Regions from separate parts of the Homo sapiens genome. Here region 2 is linked to region 1. The links come from fine-mapping of genetic effects on gene expression. A gene starts in region 1. The other region holds a variant in brackets. All regions are shown on one strand. Distances are between the middles of the regions. Region 1 holds the start of HOMER3-AS1 (HOMER3 antisense RNA 1). Region 2 holds the start of LOC124904654 (a long non-coding RNA gene).

Evidence for each region.
Region 2: its variant is fine-mapped to the expression of HOMER3-AS1 in prostate (GTEx, PIP 0.98).

The regions. Positions count from the first base shown.
Region 1 is chr19:18,938,491-18,941,392 of GRCh38, reverse strand. It overlaps HOMER3-AS1 (HOMER3 antisense RNA 1), which reads right to left and starts at 1,139. Exons shown (of 3, transcript NR_134913.1): 1 at 769-1,139. It overlaps HOMER3 (homer scaffold protein 3), which reads left to right and starts at 176. Exons shown (of 10, transcript NM_004838.4): 1 at 176-342; 2 at 2,344-2,424; 3 at 2,509-2,665. The coding sequence starts at 2,411. RefSeq lists a silencer at 13-212.
Region 2 is chr19:18,328,327-18,331,228 of GRCh38, reverse strand. LOC124904654 (a long non-coding RNA gene) reads right to left here and starts at 2,504. Exons shown (of 2, transcript XR_007067158.1): 1 at 2,450-2,504. RefSeq lists an enhancer at 2,776-2,895. The variant ATG/G (reference allele first, on the strand shown) is at 1,078.

The sequences.
Region 1 (2,902 bases):
AATCCTCCGTCCCTTCCCCAGTCCCGGCCCCCGCCCCTCCCCCTTATCCCCTCCCCCATACCCTCTCCCAGTGCAAAAAGCCGGCAGGGGGCGCAGCGGGGCGGCCTTGGCGGCCCGGGGAGGCGGGGCGGGCGGCGGCCGCGTCGGGACCGGCCGCGATGGGACCGGAGGCGGCGCGGGCGGCGGCGGCGCAGACAAAGGCACGGGCGGCGTGGAGGGCGGCGCGGAGGGCGCGGGCCCGGGAGCCAGGGAGCGAGCGGGGCGCCCGGCAGCGCGGAGTCAGCGCCGCGGGGGCCGCACCCGACTCGCGCCTGGACACTCGCGGGGCGCCGACCTGGCAGGGTGAGCCCGGCCTGCCGAGCCTGCGCTGGGAGCGCGGGGGCCTCGAAGTCCCAGGGCCAAGGGGAGGGCGTGGGGGTTCCCCAGAAGTTTCGGACCCGGGACTGGGAGCGGCGCGAGGGGTCCCCAAGTTCCAGGGCTGGAGGGAGCGCGGGGGTCCCGAAGTTCTGGATTCAGGGTCTGAGAGGGGACTGCGTGGGAGGTTCCCAAAGTTCTGGACCCGGCGTTGGAGGAGGCTGCGAAGAGGTCCCCAAAGCTGCGGACCTGGGGTGGGGTACTGGGGTGGGAGGGGTCCGGACGTCCCGGACCCAGGGACTGGAGGGGTGGCAGGGGGTCCTCGAAGTTTAGGAGTCTAGGACAACGCGGAGGACCGGGGTCCCGGACCCAGTTAGAGGAGGAGTCACGAAGGGAGTCCCCGGAGTTACCGACCTGGGGTTGGAGGAGGCAGAAGAGGTGTCCCCCGAAGTTCTGGACCCAGAGACAGGGGGCGTCGCGGGAATCTCGGAAGTTCCAGGGTCAGAGCCCGCGTCCCGGAGTTGGGGCGTGCACTGGGTGTCCTGCCTCGGGTGGGGATGGGATCCTGAATTAATATTAACCCCCCCGTCCCCCGCACTCGGGTGCATGGGATGGGGCCTCATCCACCGGCCAGATTGGGGATCCCGGGCACCGGGCGGTGTCGGACCCCCCTCCGGGAGCCCCGTGGCCGGCGGCATCCGAGGCGCATGACTAGTTGGTGAGTAACTTTCCCCAAACGCTGCAAGTCGCAGCAGGAGCTGCCGGACCGGAAGGGCCTGGGTTCCGGGGACCCCTGTGTTCCCCAACTCCCACCCGGCGCAGGACCCGCCCCCAGTCCAGGCCAGAGCTGCCGCCCCACCCCCACTCAGGGGCTCCGGTTTCAGACCCTGTGACCAGGACAGCAGCTGCCCAGGACAGGATAGGGGGGGCATCCCCCCTTTGACCACAGAGGCCGCTGGGCCAGGGCCTCCCCTCCCCCACCTGTCTTCCCCCTCCTCCAAACTCCTCCTTGGTCCCCTGCAGATTCGGGGTTGCTGAATGGCCCAATGGGGAGGTTGGGGAGCCCTGGTCTCCCAGTGTGGATTCTGCTCTGCCCTCATGGTGGGCATTGGGATTGGCTGTTTGTCTACATCTTGTCTTTTTAACTTGGCTGGGGGCTCCCTGGGGATTTGGACTCTGGACTTCAAGGTGTGCTTCTGCCCTAGGGTGGGAGCTGCTGGGGGTGGGGTCCCTCTGCAGGGTGTAGTGGGGAACTGGTCTCCTGGTACTACACACCTCTCAACGCCCCATTTTTTGGTGGAGAGCCCCGCTCTGGCCAGTCATGGGTGAATGTGGTGGAAAGAACTCAGCAGAGATTTGGCCTCCACAGCTCAGCCTGGGATGGAGGGGACTTCACGGGGGTGCAATAACCAGGACAATGAGAAATTTACATCTGGATGTCAGCGGCCACCAGGCTCCTCTCAGAGGGCCATCTCCTGTACAGGGTGTTGTGGGGGCTTCCCCTAGACAAAGAAAGATGGGGTCTGCTTGCTCTGAGTTATCTATAATAATTATCTTACCTTTTTGTTTCTTTTTATAATTTCTTTCTTTTTTGAGACAGGGTCTCACTCTCTTGTCCAGGCTGGAGTGCAGTGGCCTGACCATAGCTCACTGCACTGCAGCCTTGACCTCCTGGGCTCAAGTGATCCTCCCACCTCAGCCTCCCCAGTAGCTGGGACGGCAGGCACATGCCACCACACCCAGCTAATTGTTTAAATTTTTGGTAGAGATGGGGTCTCGCCATGTTGCTCAGGATGGTCTCGAACTCCTGGGCTCAAAGGATCCTCCTGACTCAGCCTCCCAAAGCACCAGGTGTACTTTGGGCCTCTCCTGCCTTTTTGATTGAAAGTTCCATGACGGGCACACCTGGTGATGGGTCCTGAGATGGAACCTGCTTGGCCTCCCTCAGCCTGGCCTGAGGGACACTCATAGTCCCTCCTCTCTCCCTAGGGGCCAAACCAGTGCTCCTGCCACCTCTCTGGCTGCCCCCTAGAGCCTGCCCATCCCAGCCTGACCAATGTCCACAGCCAGGTGAGCTCCCACCTCCCCCAGCCTGGCCCTGAGCTTTCTAAGTGGGGGTGCCTGGCCCCCACCAAACACCCTCTCCCCACGCAGGGAGCAGCCAATCTTCAGCACACGGGCGCACGTGTTCCAAATTGACCCAGCCACCAAGCGAAACTGGATCCCAGCGGGCAAGCACGCACTCACTGTCTCCTATTTCTACGATGCCACCCGCAATGTGTACCGCATCATCAGCATCGGAGGCGCCAAGGTCAGGGTGGGGTCTGGGTGGGGCAGAGGCACCAGGAGTCCTGGTGACAACCTTGGGTCTGGTGGCTGGCTTGCTGTGTGCCCAAGGGACAGGAAACCCTAAGCCTTCCCAGGCCCTAGTCTCTATCTCCTGAAAGGGTTCAGAGTAAAGACCTTCAAGACCCTAATACAAGGTAATACCTGGGGGGTTTCATGTTTGTTAGTATCTGTCCCATCTACCTTGAACTTTGTTCCCCGA
Region 2 (2,902 bases), 610 kb after region 1:
AAAACAAAACAAAACAAAACCCATTTGAGGAATCTCTGCTTCTTCTGACTCTGGGATATGAAGGCGGCCAAGGACAGGGGCAAATGAACCTCTGTTCTTTGGTTGCCTGCACCCCAGGAATGCACTGGGCAAGGTACAAATGATATTTTGTTTCAGCTCAGGTGGCCATGGATCAGGAAGGGCCTGATCCATGTGAGGCTCCTGGTTCCCCGGATGGGAGAGGGTCACTGCCTTGACCAGCGAAGCGCAACCCAGGAGGGTGTCTGCGTTTCCTTTTTTTTTTTTTTTGGAGACGGAGTTTCACTCTTGTTGCCCAGGCTGGAGTGCACTGGCGCGATCTCAGCTCTTTACAACCTCCACCTCCTGGACTCCAGCGATTCTTCTGCCTCAGCCTCCCAAACAGCTGGGATTGCAGGTGATCACCACCATGCCCAGCTAATTTTTGTATTTTTAGTAGAGATGGGGTTTCACCATGTGGACCAGGATGGTCTTGATCTCTTGATCTCGTGATCCGCCCGCCTTGGCCTCCCAAAGTGCTGGGATTACAGGCGTGAGCCACCTCGCCTGGCCCAGCTAATTTTTTTTAAAAAAACCTGCTATTTACTTATTTACTTTTAAGATGGAGTCTCACTCTGTTGCCCCGGCTGGAGTGCAATGGCGTGATCTCAGCTCACTGCAACCTCTACCTCCCAGGTTCAAGCGATTTTCATGCCTCAGCCCCCCAAGTAGCTGGGATTACAGGCACACGCCACCATGGCTGGCTAGTTTTTGTACCTTTAGTAGAGACGGGGTCTTGCCATGTTGGGCTAGGCTGGTTTTGAATTCCTGACCTTAAGTGATCCACCCGCCTTGGCCTCCCAAAGTGTTGGGATTACAGGTGTGAGGCACTGCGCCCAGCAAAATATTGCTCTTTTAGAATTGGCGATATTGCTGTGAGGCCCTGGCATGGTGGTTCCCTTCACCCGAAAGACTTCCTTAGTAGAAATGTTCAGAAATGGATTGCTGAGCTGAAGGGTGTGATACTTTTATAGCTTTTGAGATATAATACCAACTTTTTTCCCATTTAAAAGGAAACAC[ATG/G]TTTGCCAGTTTCATCACAACCTTGCCAGTACTGGCTTTTATGCTGTTCTTTTTTTTTTAGTAGTGGGTAGGGTATTTTTGTTAGTTGGAGACGTACATTGATCTAGACTTCTTAGGTTTCTGCTGGAAGAAATACAATTTTTTTTTTTTTGAGACAGAGTTTTGCTCTTGTTGCCCAGGCTGGAGTGCAATGGCATGATCTCGGCTGACTGCAACCTCTGCCTCCTGGGTTCAAGTGATTCTCCTGACTCAGCCTCCTGAGTAGCTGGGATTACGGGCACCCACCACCACGCCTGGCTAATTTTTGTATTTTTAGTAGAGACAGGGTTTTGCCATGTTGGCCAGGCTGGTCTCGAACTCCTGACCTCAGGTGATCCACCCGCCTTGGCATCCCAAATTGCTGGGATTACAGGTGTGAGCCACTGTGCCCGGTCAGAAATATAATTTAAGCTGGATCCAGAATAGGATTTTGGTTAGTGGAATACGGAAGAATGAAGATTTATGAAGCATCAGATACAGCTGGGCTCAGGCTTAGACACGGCCATGACTCTGCAGTGAAGAAATGGCCATGGCTATACCTGACTGTGATCGCCGATCACTCCAGCTCTGCAATCCCAAAACCATCCCAAGGAAGATTTTTTTTTTTTTTTTCATAGGATCTCGCTCTGTCACCCAGGGTAGAGTGCAGTAGCATGATCATGGCTCACTGCAGCCTCGAAATCCCAAGCTCAAGCCATCTTCCCATCTCAGCCTCCCAAGTAGTTGGAATTACAGGCACGTGCCACCACGCCCAGCTAATTCTTCTTAAGTTTTTTTTGGAGAGATGAGGTCTCGCTATGTTCCCCAGGCTGGTCTCGAACTCCTGGGCTCAGGTGATCCACCGGCCGGCCTCCCAAAGTGCTGGGATTACAGGCATCAGCCACCATGCTCAGCCAGCCAGGGAAGCCTTCTGATTGCCCCAGCCTGGGTCATGCATTCATGATGATAGGGGAGGGTAAACTGTCCTGAACAGCCCCAAATAGAGCCCCAGGAAACCTCTTAGGTCCTTGCTCCTACAAGTCAAAGTTGAGAGGGCTGAAACAAGCAATTACAACATGGCATAAACCAGGCAATGATGGAAATCAGTGGAGGGTACTAAAGTTCAAAGTATAAGAGAAGGAATGATTAGCTTTTGAGCAAGGCAGCTAAGGAAGAGTTCACAGAGCAGATATGCATTAGTACTGGCTCTTTTGCCAGGGACAGACTGCAAATTCCAAGTGGATGAAGCAATTAAAAAAAACTTCTTGGGCTCATTTAAGCTCATCATAGCTGTGGCTTCAACTATAGCTGGATCCAGGGGCTCAAACCATACTTCCCTTTCCACCGAGTACCTCCGTTGTCTTGTGTCTGCTGGATTATTTCTGCAGAAAGCTTCTTCCAGAGGACAGAGCCTAAGGGGTGCTGGACTTTCCCTTTAACTCCCCAGGAACCAGCTCTTCTCCCTCCCAGCCCTCGGTATCCTTCCCAGGGGAGAATCTCATTGGCCTTGGTAAATTCCGTGCTCTTTCTTTAACCAATCCCTGTAGCCAGGGGGATGGGGAACGCTGATTGGCCACCCTTACTGTTGAAAGGGCAAACAAAAAAACTGCAGTAACCACTGGCTGCCACAAGGGGACACCGAAGCAGAGGTTTCAACGATGAATAGGAGTTTGCAAGTTGTGCAAAAAAAGAAAGACTGCATGTAGAAAAGTCTAGAAAAGTCAGAAAGGATGACCCAGCATGCGGTTTGCTGCTACCTTCATCGCCATGTTGATGCTGGGACACCTCATAGACCCTGTTTCTTT